Homo sapiens: one gene and its partner. The protein of the gene in region 1 interacts with the protein of each later gene in a pairwise test. Each region holds a gene or a part of one and is shown on either strand. Other genes may lie near its edges.

What was found. The genes of interacting proteins can lie anywhere in the genome.
Region 2: the proteins of CDK3 (region 1) and CCNI interact in binary tests that used the Homo sapiens proteins (3 or more experiments, as listed by UniProt).

The regions. Positions count from the first base shown.
Region 1 is NC_000017.11:75,996,489-76,004,200, forward strand, and holds the start of CDK3 (cyclin-dependent kinase 3), read left to right. Parts: upstream 1-4,366; 5' UTR 4,367-4,479; exon of another isoform or gene 4,480-4,923; 5' UTR 4,924-4,937; coding exon 4,938-5,053; intron 5,054-5,385; coding exon 5,386-5,463; intron 5,464-5,533; coding exon 5,534-5,654; intron 5,655-5,759; coding exon 5,760-5,930; intron 5,931-6,022; coding exon 6,023-6,124; intron 6,125-6,706; coding exon 6,707-6,910; intron 6,911-7,712. Other genes in the region: CST complex subunit TEN1, read left to right, coding at 3,653-3,774. UniProt on the Homo sapiens protein: Serine/threonine-protein kinase that plays a critical role in the control of the eukaryotic cell cycle; involved in G0-G1 and G1-S cell cycle transitions. Interacts with CCNC/cyclin-C during interphase. Phosphorylates histone H1, ATF1, RB1 and CABLES1.
Region 2 is NC_000004.12:77,072,797-77,080,731, reverse strand, and holds the start of CCNI (cyclin-I), read left to right. Parts: upstream 1-4,742; 5' UTR 4,743-5,188; coding exon of another isoform or gene 5,189-5,260; intron 5,261-5,821; exon of another isoform or gene 5,822-5,942; intron 5,943-7,935.

The DNA of each region.
Region 1 (7,712 bases):
AAAAAATAATAATAATAACCAGCCTGGGTAACATGGTGAAACCCCGTCTCTACAAAAAATGCAAAAATTAGCAGGGTGCGTTGTTGCACACATGCCTGTAGTCCCAGCTACTGGGGAGGCTGAGGTGGGAGGATCACTTGAGCCAGGGAGGCAGAGATTGCAGTGAGCTGAGACTGTACCACTGTACTGCAGCCTGGGTGACAGAGTGAGACCCTGTCAAAAAAAAAAAAAAAAAGAGAGAGAGAAAGAAAGAAAAAGAAAGAAAAGAAAAGAAAGAGAAAAGAGAAGAGAAAGGGAGGGAGGGAAACCTTCCTGTGTGTCCCCTGTGCACCTCCCTCTTCGAGCATCCTTACAGCTCTGGGACTTGCCCAAACCTTTCTCCCCAAACCACACACCCACAGAGTCTGGAGCAGGGCCGGAGTTTCCCCGGCTCCTCGGGTGTGTCAGCATCACACATCCCTCCCTGTCTCCCTGCTGCCAACCAGTTCCACCACTGTGCACCTCTGCCCCAATTCCACCTCCCACGCCTGCTGCTGCACCTTGGACTTGTTTTCCTGAAATTGCATGCCATCCACTCTCCCTTCTACTTCTGCTGCGTCCCTCTTGCCCTATCAGGACCTGTGGACTCAGGACTCCCGGGCTTTCTCCCCCATCTCTCTTCCCCGTTGGGCCTCACTACCATTTCAGCCACTTTCCTGGCAGCTTCACTCCTGCCCCAAGACCCCAGCCTCCACCCTCCTGGTTCTGCCAACTGTTGAGTGCAGAAAGATCACAGAACTCCAAGGATTTGGAGCTCAATGATTTCAGGGGCTCACTGGCATTCCCCTGCTCTGCCTAGAAATCCTTCCTGTGTCCTGGCCACACCCCCCTCCCCGGCGCCACCACAGCTAGTCCAGAAATTCCCCTGCCTCACAAGAACCCACTTCCTCTCCTCCCCTGTCCCTCCCGGCTTATTGCTTTATGAGCCAGCTAGAATCGAGGCCACAGGCAGCCGTTCTTCCTCCTACCATCAGACACTGAAACGGCCACCGACCATCAGACACTGAAACGGCCACCGTTAGCTCCTTCCTCTAGTCTAAGAGGAAGCGGGGTCCCTCCTACCTAAGGGGTTACCACAGTTCTTCCCTGTCCACATATAAGGTGTTCAAGCCTCCTCTATATGGAAATAATAGTCTCAATGACAAGAAGTCATCTTCTACACTAGAGTCTGACCTACCTGCCCATGACCTTCCCTCCCTTTGCAGACAAACCTCCTAAAAGAACATCTGTGCTCCGTATAACCCCTTCCTCTTCCCAGGCCTCACCCCACTGCATTCTGACTGCTTTTTATAACCCAGGCCCTTCTTCTTTGCTCCAGGTTCTTAATCTTTTTTTTTTTTTCCTGAGATGGAGTCTCGCTCTGTCACCCAGGCTGGGAGTGCAGTGGCACGATCTCTGCTTACTGCAACCTCTGCTTCCTGGGTTCAAGCGATTCTGCCTCAGCCTCCCTAGTAGCTGGGATTACAGGTGCCCGCCACCACACCCAGCTAATTTTTGTCTTTTTAGTAGAGACAGGGTTTCACCATGTTGGCCAGGCTGGTCTTCAGCTCCTGACCTCAGGTGATCCGCCTGCGTCAGCCTCCCAGAGTGCTGGGATTACAGATGTGAGCCACTGCGCCTGGCCTTTTTCCTTTTTTTTTCCTTTTTTTTTTTTTTTTGAGACAGAGTCTCATTCTGTTTCCCAGGCTGGAGTGCAGTGGCGCAATCTTGGCTCACTGCGACATCCACCTCCCCGGTTCAAGTGATTCTCGTGCCTCAGCCTCCCAAGTAGTCGGGCCTGGGTAACTTTTGTATTTTTAGTAGAGACAGGGTTTTCGCTTGTTGGCCAGGCTGGTCTTGAGCTCCTGGCCTCAAGTGATCTGCTTGTCTTGCCCTCCCAAAGTGTTGGGATTACAGTGTTGGGAGCCACCGCGCCACGCCCCGATTCCTCTCTGACCTGTGTCAGCACTGGGGCTAACAGAAGCTGAGACACACAGGCAACCTCATGTTTCAAATGAGTTCATTGCCTAAGGGTAGCCTGTATAGACAGCTAGGCAGGATGACACCCTGAATTCTGCCCTCAGGCTGTGCTATAAATGACCTAGACTAGAGGAAAGGGCAGGCAGAGCCTTTATCTCAAACAGCGTCAAAAGAAAACAATGTAATAGCCTAGAACATTGAATCTATTTATTTACTTATTTTGAGACAGAGTCTCACTCTGTTGCCCAGGCTGGAGTGCAGTGGCTTGATCTCGGCTCACTGCAACGTCTGCCTCCCAGGTTCAAGCGATTCTCCTGCCTCAGCCTCCCGAGTAGCTGGGTTTACAGGTGCCAGCTACCACACCTGGCTAATTTTTGTATTTTTAGTAGAGACGGGGTTTTGCCGTGTTGGCCAAGCTGGTCATGAACTCCTGACCTCAGGTGATCCACCCATCTCGGAAATCTATTTATTAAAGTGCTCAGAGAGCAGAAAGAGCATGAGTGCAAAAAATTTTTTTAACTTTTTTTTTTCTCTTGCAAGCTATGACTGGGGAAAAAAGAAAGAAAAAAAAAATGTCAGCAATGCACAGTGGCTCACGCCTATAATCCATGCATGTTGGGAGGCCGAGGCGGGCAGATCACTTGACCCCAGGAGTTTGAAACCAGCCTGGGCAACATGGCGAGACCCCATCTCTACAAGAAATACAAAAATTAGCTGGGTGTGGTGGTGCGTCCCTGTAGTCCCAGCTCCTCAGGAAGCTGAGATGATCACCTGAGCCTGGGAGGTGGAGGCTACATTGAGCCATGATTGAGCCACTGCATTCCAGCCCAAGTGACAGAGCAACACCCTGTCTCAAAAAAAAAATTTTTTTTTTTAGGTGGAGTCTTGCTCTGTTGCCCAGGCTGGAGTGCAGTGGCGTGATCTTGGCTCACTGCAACCTCCACCTCCTGGGTTCAAGCAATTCTCCTGCCTCAGCCTTCCAAGTAGCTGGGATTACAGGCATGCACCACTACACGCGGCTAATTTTTGTATTTTTAGTAGAGATGGGGTTTCATCATGTTGGCCAGGCTGGTCTTGAACTCCTGACCTCAAGTGTTCCACATGCCTTGGCCTCCCAAAGTGCTGAGATTACAGGTGTGAGCCAGTTCACCTGTCAAAAGAAAGAAAATTTTTAAAAAGTCTCTCGGAGATGTCTTTCCTGTTTGGTGCCACCTGAATAGTGGCAAACCTTTCCATTATGTATCAGGTCACCACCGCATCTGCTAGAAGCCCCCCTCGTCCAGGGTGGGATGACCTGCTCCTATAAAGCCAAACTTACCGGGAGCTCAGTCTCTTGGATTTTTAAAATATGGGTGTCTCTTTTCCCCGGTTCCTGATGACATTGTGTCCCAAGGTGCCAAGGGGGCCTTTCCCTCAGTCCAGAGGGGTTTTCTGACCACCTGCTAAGTTCCAGACACGGGCCGACTGTGCATGACAGGCCCACGGTTCTAGGCCCAAATACTCAGTTGCCTTTGCCCCATATGCTGTTATTGTCCACATCACTTGCTGCCAAAACCCAGGACTGAGCTGTGGAGGGAACAGCTGGAATGCACCTTGGAGGACGTTGTTGACACGCCGCTCAGTCGCCGTTCGTGCCCTGGTGTTTGTCTTGCAGACAGAGGCTCCGTGGTGAAGGCGCGCGTGCTGACCTGTGTGGAGGGGATGAACCTGCCCTTGTTGGAACAAGCCATCCGGGAGCAGAGACTGTACAAGCAGGAGCGGGGCGGCAGCCAGTAGGAAACAGCAGCCTAGCAACACCCTCACCTGCTTCAGAGCCCGAACCCTCTGGAGCTGCAGGAGCCCGGGAGAGCACAGACGCCTCCCCAGCGACGGCCTTGTCTGGAGCTCGAAAGCCGAGGGGCGGGTGATGAATCCAGCCCCTTCCCCTACTTTGGGATTGGCTCAGCAATGAGAACCCAGAAAGCATGCCATAAATCCGACAGCCCCACCCCAGGAGACTGCAGGTGGCCGAGCTTGGGCGCCGGGGCCGTGCTTGGTGTGGGGCCATGGAGGGTTCCAGAAGGTCCTGGTGAATAAAGGCCCAGGGGGCGTGCTCTTGAAGTGTGCTCGTGGTGCAGCGCCGGCGGGGGCCAGGAGGGGGAGCTGCAACCCAGGCTGTGGGCTGCAGCCTCTCAGGGCTTCTGGTGAATTCTGGGCCTGGGGCCTCAGGGTAGGGCACCAGGGGCCCAGGGGCTGGGGTGGGGGGCCCAGGATGCAGGGGTCTGCCCCTGGCCAGGCTCTGCCTTCAGAGGAGGCTGAGCGTCGTCACACGGGCCGGGCTGAGGCCCTGGGCCCTGACCGTGCAGCCTAAGACAGGACTGTGGCTTTAAGACCCTCCTGACCCCTGACCTCTGCCCCCAGTGGCCCTGGCCCCTGGGCAGCCCTTCCTGGCCGCCATGTGTACCCAGAGCCTGGGACTGGCTGGGCTGGGCAGTGACCCAGGTGGGAAAGGGTGGTCTTGCCCTCTAAGGCCCGGCACAAGTGAGAGGCCTGGGGGTCCATGTTGGGCTGGGCTGGGCGAGGGGTGGTCTCTGACTTCCTGGGGGTTCTGGCTGGGATGGGCAGGGGGCTGGGTGGGAGAGTGTGGGCCCTGCCCTCCGAGGCCGGGCATGGGCGAGAAGCCTGGGGGTCCTGGCTGAACTGGGCTGGGTGAAGGGGGCCCCCTGACCCCCTTGGGGTCCGGGCTGGGCTGGGTGAGGGGCGGTTTCCGACCCCCAGCCAGGTTCCCAGGCAGGATGAGCTGGGGTTGGGGTGGCTAGGCCGTGGGCCTTGGGAGCTGGGCAGTCTGGGCTGGGCTGGGCTGGGCAGGGCGCCACATGGAAGCTGGAGGAGCAACGGGAGCGCTGGGCGTGGGGTGCAAATTGCCCGGTGCCTTCTGTTTCCCAGGCAGCTCTGTGGCCATGGATATGTTCCAGAAGGTAGAGAAGATCGGAGAGGGCACCTATGGGGTGGTGTACAAGGCCAAGAACAGGGAGACAGGGCAGCTGGTGGCCCTGAAGAAGATCAGACTGGATTTGTGAGTGCTGGGACGGCCCCTGAGTTACCCACCCTGGGCCATCACAACCTGGGCGCTCCCTGATCCGTTCCCTCTTTCCTGGAGTCCACGTTTAACTCCTCTGGGTGCTGCCCAGCAGCCCTTACCTGTCCTCTCCCCAGTTCACTGCCTTCTGACCAGCCTTTGCCGGGGCCCTGACTGTGGAGTTTGGTGGATGACGTGCCAAGGAGCACAGGTCTCCATTGCCGGGGCCCTGGTCATTCTGTGGGGTTAAGGAGAAGCCGATCCCCCTGGCTGGAAGTGCCCTTCTTGGCCCAAGTCTCTGCCCACGGCTGTGCCCTTGTTTCTTGCAGGGAGATGGAGGGGGTCCCAAGCACTGCCATCAGGGAGATCTCGCTGCTCAAGGAACTGAAGCACCCCAACATCGTCCGGTGAGTTGGGGATTGAGGTGGGGAAGCTGGGATGGCGAAGGTAGCATCCTGACTGCCATCTCCCTGTCAGACTGCTGGACGTGGTGCACAACGAGAGGAAGCTCTATCTGGTGTTTGAGTTCCTCAGCCAGGACCTGAAGAAGTACATGGACTCCACCCCAGGCTCAGAGCTCCCCCTGCACCTCATCAAGGTAGGGAAGGAAGGGCAGGGAAGGAGAGGTGACACCCCATCCCTGCCATCCCTGTCCACGCAGCACCTCCGCTCAGCTGGCTGCACCTCGCGCTCGTTTCTCCAGAGCTACCTCTTCCAGCTGCTGCAGGGGGTGAGTTTCTGCCACTCACATCGGGTCATCCACCGAGACCTGAAGCCCCAGAACCTGCTCATCAATGAGTTGGGTGCCATCAAGCTGGCTGACTTCGGCCTGGCTCGCGCCTTCGGGGTGCCCCTGCGCACCTACACCCATGAGGTATTGTGAGACAAAGAGGAGAGAGGGGCAGCAGGAGGAGTGTCACCCATGCACTCAGCCACCCTGAGTGATACTGTTTCTTTGCCCTGCAGGTGGTGACACTGTGGTATCGCGCCCCCGAGATTCTCTTGGGCAGCAAGTTCTATACCACAGCTGTGGATATCTGGAGCATTGGTTGCATCTTTGCAGAGATGGTAGAGAGAGGGGCACACATGGCCACAGGGTGCCACAGGCAGGGTCCTACTGGGGTTGGGTGGGGTCCACTGATGCTCCCATTCGAGGCGGATTAAAGAGTGTTTGGGGCTGGACATGGCTCACGCCCGTAATCCCAGCACTTTGGGAGGCTGAGATGGGAGGATGGCTTGAGCCCAGGAGTTTGAGACCAGCCTGGGCAACGTAACAAATCCCCAGCTCTTAAAAAACTACAAAAATTAGCTGGGTGTGGTGGTGCATGCTTGTAGTCCCAGCTACTTGGGAGGTTGAGGCAGGAGGATTGCTTGAGCCTGTGGTTGAGGCTGCAGTGAGCTGTGATCGCACGACTGCACTCTAGCCTGGGTGACAGAGCAAGACTCCGTCTCTATTTTTTAAAAAAAGGTGTTTGGTACTGGCTAAAGGACTGAGGAAGGTAGCTTTATTCCAAAAGAGGCCAGAATTCTTTGCACAGTCATGGAAAAGATATCTTGACAGGCCTCTCCCTGGGTCTGGCCACTTATCTGGTATTGGATTCTGTATAACAAAGTGGCGGACCCCACACCTTCTCTTCTTCCCCATTTCAGGTGACTCGAAAAGCCCTGTTTCCTGGTGACTCTGAGATTGACCAGCTCTTTCGTATCTTTCGTATGCTGGGGACACCCAGCGAAGACACATGGCCCGGGGTCACCCAGCTGCCTGACTATAAGGGCAGCTTCCCTAAGTGGACCAGGAAGGGACTGGAAGAGATTGTGCCCAATCTGGAGCCAGAGGGCAGGGACCTGCTCATGGTAGGTGCATGTGGGCTCCAGCTGCTGCTCCGACTACAGTTTCCCCTCATCAGCCAGCCTCTTACATAACCCTGGCACTTTCTGAGTCCAAGGCCAGGGTCTCTTTCCTGACCTTTGTACACAACTGGCTTGGGTATACTGATTGTTCAACCCGGAAGCCTCCCCCAGGATAAGTGCAGTATTTATCTTCCCTGTGAAAGTGGCGCTCATTGAGTTAGCTCTGTCTTTATGCTGTGCTACACGCCCTTTTTCCCTAGTTGTCTTGTGTGTTTGGTTATTCTACTTTGTGGACATTACTGCTCCATCTAAGCTGTATGCCTCCCCAGGCTGGGGCCATACCTTCTTTTCTTTTCTTTTTTTTGAGATGGAGTTTTGCTCTTGTTGCCCGGGCTGGAGTGCAATGGCGTGATCTCAGCTCACTGCAACTTCTGCCTCCTGGGTTCAAGTCATTCTCCTGCCTCAGCCTCCCGAGTAGCTGGGACTACAGGTGCCTGCCACCACGCCCAGCTAATTTTTGTATTTTTTTTTTTAGTAGAGACAGGGTTTCACCATGTTGGCCAGACTGGTCTTGAACTCCTCAGGTGATCTGCCCACCTCGGCTTCCCAAAGTGCTGGGATTACAGGCATGAGCCACTGTGCCCGGCTGGGGCCTCTCGTTCTACTGCCTGGCTGTTCCCCTGTGACTCCTACAGTGGTCAGTCTTCAGAACAGGCTGTTCCCTACTGCCTGGGCCCATGCCACAGTTCTCACTCACCCCTCCTGTTGGTGTCTTGAGCTGACCCAGGCCGGACTGCCCAGGAAG
Region 2 (7,935 bases), on another chromosome or scaffold:
CTGTTTCTCATGTGCTTCCTTATGCTGCTCCTCTTTGATTTGAAGCAAGGTATAGTTTAATTTCAAGATTTAATATTCTAGTCATGAAATAAAACAAGTCTGAAATCCTTTTCCAGTAAAAATCTACTCTTTAGACACACAAATAACTGCATATTAGATTTTTAAAAATATTTAAGATTAAACACAAGCCAAAAATCACCACAAGGTGACTATTTTTGTCCTAAAATTTACTGCAAGCCAGAAACTTCTAAGGGAGAGGCAGTAAAGAGTAGTGATTAAAAACATACCATGCTTTGGAGATAGTCAACCTGGGTTTGAATCCTGGCTGTGCCCCTCTAAGCTATGTGATGAATATTGGGATTTACTTTACCTCTTTATCTTTTGTAAAATAGGAACAACAAAAATACCTACTATAGAGGAGTGCTGTGGGGATAAACACAAAAGAATGCAATAAAAATGCTTAGTATAATGTTTGCTACATAGTGAGTGATCAACATGTGTTAGTTATTATTATTCTCTCTCTCCTTTTTTTTTCAGATACAGGGTCTTTCTGTGTTGCCCAGGCTGGTGCAAACTCCTGGGCTTAATGATCCTCCCAGCTTGGCCTCCCAAAGCAATTACAGGCATGAACTACCACACCTAGAAATGCCGTGTAGAATGGTAGTCTAACTTTACTATTTAGAATTACTAAATAGAAGTTATTTACCAATACGCGGATAATATGTTCTCTTTATATATCTTATTTATTTTCTCAGGGAATTTCATAAACTTTCGATTTTTTACAACTACAATTAATTGTAAAAACAATTATTAGTTATTAAAAAAAATATGGCCTGGCGCAGTGGCTCAAGCCTGTAATCCCAGCACTTTGGAAGGCCGAGGCAGGTGGACTACCTGAGGTTAGGAGTTCGAGACCAGCCTAGCCAACATGGTGAAACTGTCTCTACTAAAAATACAAAAATTACCCAGGCACGGTGGCACACCTGTAATCTCAGCTACTCGGGAGGCTGAGGCAGAAGAATTGCTTAAACCCGGGATATGGAGGTTGCAGTGAACTGAGATTGCACCATTGCACTCCAGCCTGGGTGACAAGAGAGAGACTCTGTTTCAAAAAAAAAAAAAAGTGAATTAAAGTATGGTCTTACAAATGGATACTGAAGAACAAGAATGTCCATATTGGCTGTGCACAGTGGCTCATGCATGTCATCCCAGCACTTTGGGAGGCTGACGTAGCTGGATTGCTTGAGCTCTGGCATTCGAGATCAGCCTGGGCAACATGACAAAACCCCGTCTGTACAAAAAATACAAAAGTTAGCTGGGCATGGTGGTGCACACCTGTATTCCCAGCTAGTTAGAAGTCTGAGGTGGAAGGATCGCTTGAGCCTAGGAAGTTGAGGCTGCAGTGAGCTGAGATCGCACCACTGCAACCTGGGTGACAGGGTGAGACCTTGTCTCAAAGGAAAAAAAAAAAAGAAAGAAAATATCCATACTTTTTGTTCAGACAACTGCAACTAGTTACTTACCCACCTATTAATTACTTGTAATTATATTTATAGTAGATTAAATTGTCACTGGCAATCTCATAGGCAGTAAGATAGTTTTAATAAGGATAAGTATATAATTAAATGGGAGCTCTTAAAGACTCCTGGTAACATTTTAATTGGTTTAATCTTCTGCCTTGCAACTGGCAACTGGTATTCAGTAAAAGCCATAAAAACATAATATTGTTGGACCTAGGAATAGCCCCAAAGAGGTTATGAAGATGTTAATTGAATTATTTTTGTTTTTCATTTTTTGGGTAGCAGCTTTATTATAATTCAAACACCATAGAAGTAATACATTTAAAGTGTACAATTCAATGGTTTTTAGTACAGGTTGCATATCCCTGATACAAAAATCTGAAATGCTCCAAAATCCAAAGCTTTTTGAGTGCCAACATGACACTCAGAGGAAATGCTCATTTTGGATTTTCAGACTAGGTTGCTCAACCAGTAAGTATATAATTTAATGCAAACATTTCCAAAACTGAAAAAAAAGTTTAAAATTCAAAATACTTCTGGTCTCAAATATTTTGGATAATACTCAACCTAAATATTCACAGTTGCGCAACCATCAACACAATCAATCTCAGAACATTTTTCTCACCTCAAAAAGAAACCTTCAAAAAATCAGTTGGGCATGGAGGCATGCGCCTGTGGTTCCAGCTACACAGGAGGCTGAGGCAGGAGGATTGCTTGATCCTGGAGGTCAAGGCTACAGTGAGTCATGTTCACACCATTGCACTCCAGCCTGCAGCCTGGGGGACAGAGCAAGGCCCTGTTTCCAAAAAAAAAAAAAAGAAAAAAAGAAAAGAAAAAAAGAAAGAAACCCCCATATCATTTAACTATCATCCCCTAATCCCATGCCTGCCCCTAGCCCTAAGCAACCACTTCCTTACTTTCTGTCTCTATATATTTGCCTATTCTGGACATTCACGTAAGTGGAATCATATAATATGTGGTCTTTTGTGACTGGCTTCTTTCATTTAGCATACTGCTTTCAAAGGTTATGCATGTTATAGCATGTATTAGTATTTTCTTTTTATGGCCCAATAAGATTCCATTGTATAGGTCGGTGTGACGGCTCATGCCTGTAATCCCATCACTTTCAGGCTAAGGAGGGAGAATTGCTAGAGGCCAGGAGTTTGAGACCAGCCTGGACAACATAGGAAGTCTCATGGCACCCCCATCTGCGCCACGGAGCCAGACCCCATCTCTTAAAAATAAAAATTTGATTGTACATAGATGTATCACATTTGATTTATACAGGCGCCAGCTGATGAACATTTAGGTTGTTTCATCTTTGGCTATTATGAATAATGCTAACGTTTGTAAAAAAGTTTTTGCATGGACAAATATTTTCCTTTCTCTTGGGTATATATTTAGGAGTGGAATTTGCATTATTCTTATTGGAGTGAAAATCAGAAGCAATTTCATGGTCTAACAATGGAATTATGTTACACTCTCAATAGTATTATGCAGAAATGCTACAGTCTCAAGAGTAACATGCAGAAAAATGGTGGCTTTTTTGAATGAAGACCATATAATAATAGGCTACATGAAGTGAAAAAAAGAAAAAAAAAGGATACAACCCACTTGAAATCCTCCTAGGGCTTCCCATTCCTTCTTCTGTTCTATGGCATCTGTCCTCTGCTTCCACATCCTGCCTCAGTTGTCTGAGGGCCAGCCACACTAGCTTTCAGAGATTTTTAGAACGTCTCAGCTTCGGAGCCTTTTCACATAACTTCCTCTGCTTGTATCATTCTTTGCCCAGTGGTTTCAAGTCTCATCTTAAATGTCACTTCTTCAGAAAAACCTTCTCTGATATCCCAAACCAGGCGGAAAGGCAAGCGTTTCCACAGCAGCCGGCGATTTTCCATCTTAACGGTTTTAATACCAGAATTGTTTACTTGGTCAAATATTGAGAGCCTTTTATACACAGGGATAGAGGGTGAAACATGCAAGATCCCTGCCGCCTGCGACCTTATATTCTAGGGAGGGGATACATGCACAAGTAAACAAGTAAATGTACTTGGTAATTTTACATAGTGATAATTAGCTCAATGGTTATCCTCTGTTTGGACTGTAAACTCCATGAAGGCAGGAGCTATGTCTGTCTTGGCTACTTCCAGTTTGCTGAGTCTGGCCACTAAATAAACTCAACACATATTTTTTCACTGACAGTTAAAATAACTATATAAAAAACAAATGGAAAAAACAAACGAGACTTCTATAAATGGTTGAGATCTAGCTCTTCCTCTTTCAAAACTCTGTAATACTACATATTTTTAAATAATTAAAACAATCAAAATAGCAAAAAGTTACCGTTTGTACTAACAGAACCCCAAATAAAACCCATTTATGTCACCACACATTCTTTAAGCACCTGGTAATAAAACCTATTCGGAAATACTCAGACGTGTTGGTTGAGTGGATAAAATCCCCTTGCCACATTGCCAAGCAGGTTCCTCGCCGTCAGCAGTATAATTTACAGTGTTTCACTGAGGCCTTAAGCACCCATGATTTGATTCTCCCTAATTTTCCGATTCCTAAAACCCTTTAGAATCTCCCTCCACCCACACAATGTGGCAGTGAGAAAAACCGCAATTCTATTTACATGTCAACGGTAAGAACACGTAATACTTTGCTAGGTCAACAAATCTGCAAGATCTCCACCCAAGAGATCAGTAGCCCCTTCCCAGTGAATCCTTCTAAGAGCCTGGGGACGAGTAGGGCTAGATAAAACCAAGCTGCTGTAAAGCTGGACCACAGGAGCGGATCGTGAAATCCCCTCCCCCAAGCGCAGCGCTCGGCCGCTTCTTTCTTCCCCAGGCGCATGCGCAGCGCACTCTCCGGCCACCGCACGCCCCCTCAGTGGGGGCCCAGAGACGCTGACGTCACCGTGCGGTCTGCAAGCAACCCTTCCGCTCCTTCAAGGAAAATGAGTCCACGGACCTTCGGCTTTTCTTAGCCACGAGAAAACGTCCTCCCTCCTTCCATCCTAGTGCCAACGACTTCCCCAGCCCGTCTCCTTTCGGCCGCACTTCTCTGTACTTTCGTTGGACCGGGAAGGCGGCGGGGAGGAACAGGAAGGGTGAAAGACCAAGTCCGCGTAGTTTACAAGGAGTGGGCGAGTCTAGGAATCGGTCCGCGAGGGCGGAGCCGAGGAAGCCGGCACTTCTTCCTCCCTTCCCCTCTCTTCCCCTCCCTCCCCAGCCTTCCCCGCGAGCGGACGCGGCAGCGCCTCTGTCTCGCTTTTTCTTATTTTTCCCCCCTTTCCCCTTTCTTTTTTTTTTTTTCTTTTCTTTTCTCCCCTCCCCCCCTTTCACCATTTCCCCTCGGAGGCGCTTTCCCCGGGCAGGGGCAGAGCCGGTCTCACCCCCCGCCTCTCCCCGGCCCCCGCCGCCCTATGGCGAGAGGGAGCCCCCTCCCAACCCGGGCTCGAGCGGCGGCGGCCTCAGGCCGGGGGTCATCATGGAACTAATTCGCTGACCGACCCAGCGGCCGCAGCCGTGCGTCCCGCTCGAGCGCCAGCGCCCGCGCCCGCGCCCCCCGATCCGCTTCCCCTTTCTCCCTCCTCAGTTGGCCGAGTCGTCCCGCGCGCACCGCCTCCGCGCGCCTATGAGAATGAGGTGGTAACGGGCCCCCGGATGACCCCGCGTCACCACTGTGAGGCCTACAGCTCTGCCGGGGAGGAGGAGGAGGAGGAAGAGGAGGAGAAGGTGAGGGGCGGGGGCGGGGGCGGGGGCTCGACGCGTCTCCGCGGCCGGCGTCGACGCGCTGGGGCCCCGCTGCTCCCCCCGCGCCGCCCCCGTGGCAGCGCCCTTGGCCGCGCGCTGCTCGCCGGAGACCCACCCTCCCGCATCCCCCAGCCCGGGGAACCTCGGGGCCGCCCTCTTCGTCCTCTCCGGCCCAGACAGACCCGTCACCTGCCCACTTGAAAACGGCACTACTGTGTTCCTTTTCGGGCCAGTTTTTCTGTCAGCGAGTAACTTTTTTTTGTGGCAGCGGCAAATTAGCTACTCTATAGTGCGTGTTGGAGGCTCTACGAGCCCGTGTTAATACACAAAGAAGGGGACACACCCCCACCCTCAGGTTGAACGATTCTCCGGGGACACCAGGAGGATTACTAACTTTGCACGGCAGACTGAATGCCAAATGAATGGGGTGAACCTCCGGTGCTGTGAAATTCGGGGGAGGGCAACGTTACCCAGGGCTTGGGGCGGGTGGGTGGGGGGAATCCGGGGGAGGTGAGATTTGAGTTGTGCTCTAAAGGCTAGATTAAATAACTGGAATTTGAAAGGAGGACAGAGGAGCCTCCGCTGGAGCTAGGGGGCTCCGTTACAGATCCTTTTGGCAGAAGTTGACAATTGGGTATCAAAACAGTGGAAGGTGTTTCGGGAGGTAGGATGGATTCAGACTCTGAAGGGGTTTGAACTAAAATGTTTATGTTTTATTCTGTCAGTGGGGAGCCACTCGACTTAGAGCAGCAGAGCATTACAGTAATGACGTTAAATAACAACATTTGATGAGGCTTATTATCTGCCAGGCATTCTCCTAAGTGGCTTGCAATTCACTTAATCCCCCCAAGGCTGGTAGTAGGAGCCTCATTTTACAGATGAGGAAAACTGAGACTCCACAAGATTAACTTTCTCCTTAGGTAACGCGGCTAAAACCCAGTAGCCAGAATTAAGTCTGATTCTACGCTGTGTGGTCTCTGTCCTGAAAATGAGTTTGTTGAAATAGCAGTGTTATCTGCTGCTAGCTTTTCCAGGTCATTTGTGGCAGATGAAATAGAAAGGATTGGACAAATAGATTAAGAAATAATGGACGGAATAGATGTAGATTGGCTAATCTGGGACCAGAGAATCTCCGAGAGATTCTGAGCCCCTCTACTAGAAATTTCTTGATACCGATGAAGGGCAGACTAATACAGTCAGCATGTGTTAGGGAAGTTCAGTAAAAATGATCTGCAGTTACAGGTAGTTTATGTGGTAATGTGACATCCTAGTAGGTTAGAATGGAGCTTAGCATGTGTGTTGGTCAAGATTGGAAGCTGAGTGTGTCCGTGTTTTGTTTTGATTGTGTAATACATTAAAAATGAATATTCATCTTCCTATGTATGTTTCTTCGTCTTTAAAATGGGCTTTATGGCTGAAATGGGGGTGTAGTAAGAAAAATAAAAAACTAGAAAAAAAGGGCTTTCCACAGTTTCATCAAATTGTGGGAACATTACATGAGTTAATATGGCATAGCGCTTTGAACAATAGGTAGTCAAATAGTAAGCACTCAGTGCTTTTACTTGTTAAGCTGTTTACAAGTGAAGCTATTAGGCATATGCTCAACTCTGGAGATTAACATCAAAGAATTCATTATTAGGAAAGGCAAGTTTACCAATAGTCTCAAAGCAACTAAATGTAAAGGTAGAATTATGTCCAAGTACAGATGTTGGAAGGCAGGGCACAACTGCACAAATCCAGAGAGTCTTACAGACTGATGGCTACTTTAGGAAGGGAAGTATGAGCTAGAGGACATTTCAAGTTGAAACAGCAGTGCTTGTACAGCCAGGGAGATTGGGAAAGAGCATACACTTGGAATTGCAAATACCTTTAATTCATTGTTTCTAGTGCATAAAGTCAAGGAGGGAATAGTAGAACTTCAGTTTCTTGTATGGCCACGTTAATCCCTCCTTTCAGAAGAGGAACTAAGATTCAGAAGTCAGCACTAGTACAGGATTATTAATGGAATTGGTGTGATGATGATAGCAAATACAATAATACATATTAGTGAAGTTGTTTATATTGTATACCCAGCACTGTGCAGCACTTTTCCTCAGAGGAGCAGGGGGCCCTGTATGTATATCTGTAATAGTTATGCTGTACAGTAAGCCTTTTATAAACTATTACCTCAGACATTAAGCTATTTGATAACCGTGGAGAAAGGAGAAGCGGCAGCAATTGAGAGGATGGGAGGAGAAATGTGAAACTGGCATAAAGTTTGATGTGTGTGGAATATGCCAACTAAAATAGTCTTTTGTTATTTCTTGCTTTTCTAAAAAAGCATGCAAAGTTGGATGTAACCAACAATAGGCATACAGTAACAAAACATAACTATATAGTTCTGTTAAAACTAAAATTGTATTTTAAATGTTTGCATTTTCTTAGCGGAATTTATTAATTCAACTCAAAATGTGCTTTACCCGTAGAAAATAGGCTTGTGCACTGTCAGTAAAAGAAAAGCCAAGCCCATGCTTTCTGTATCATAGTATGTCTTACTAGTCTTGTCTTTTGTTCTTTTATGTGGAACATACATTATGACCCTATACTGCTAAATATTTCACAAGAATAGTAATATTCTCTTACAGAATCACAGCAAAATTTTCAATTTTGGTAAATTT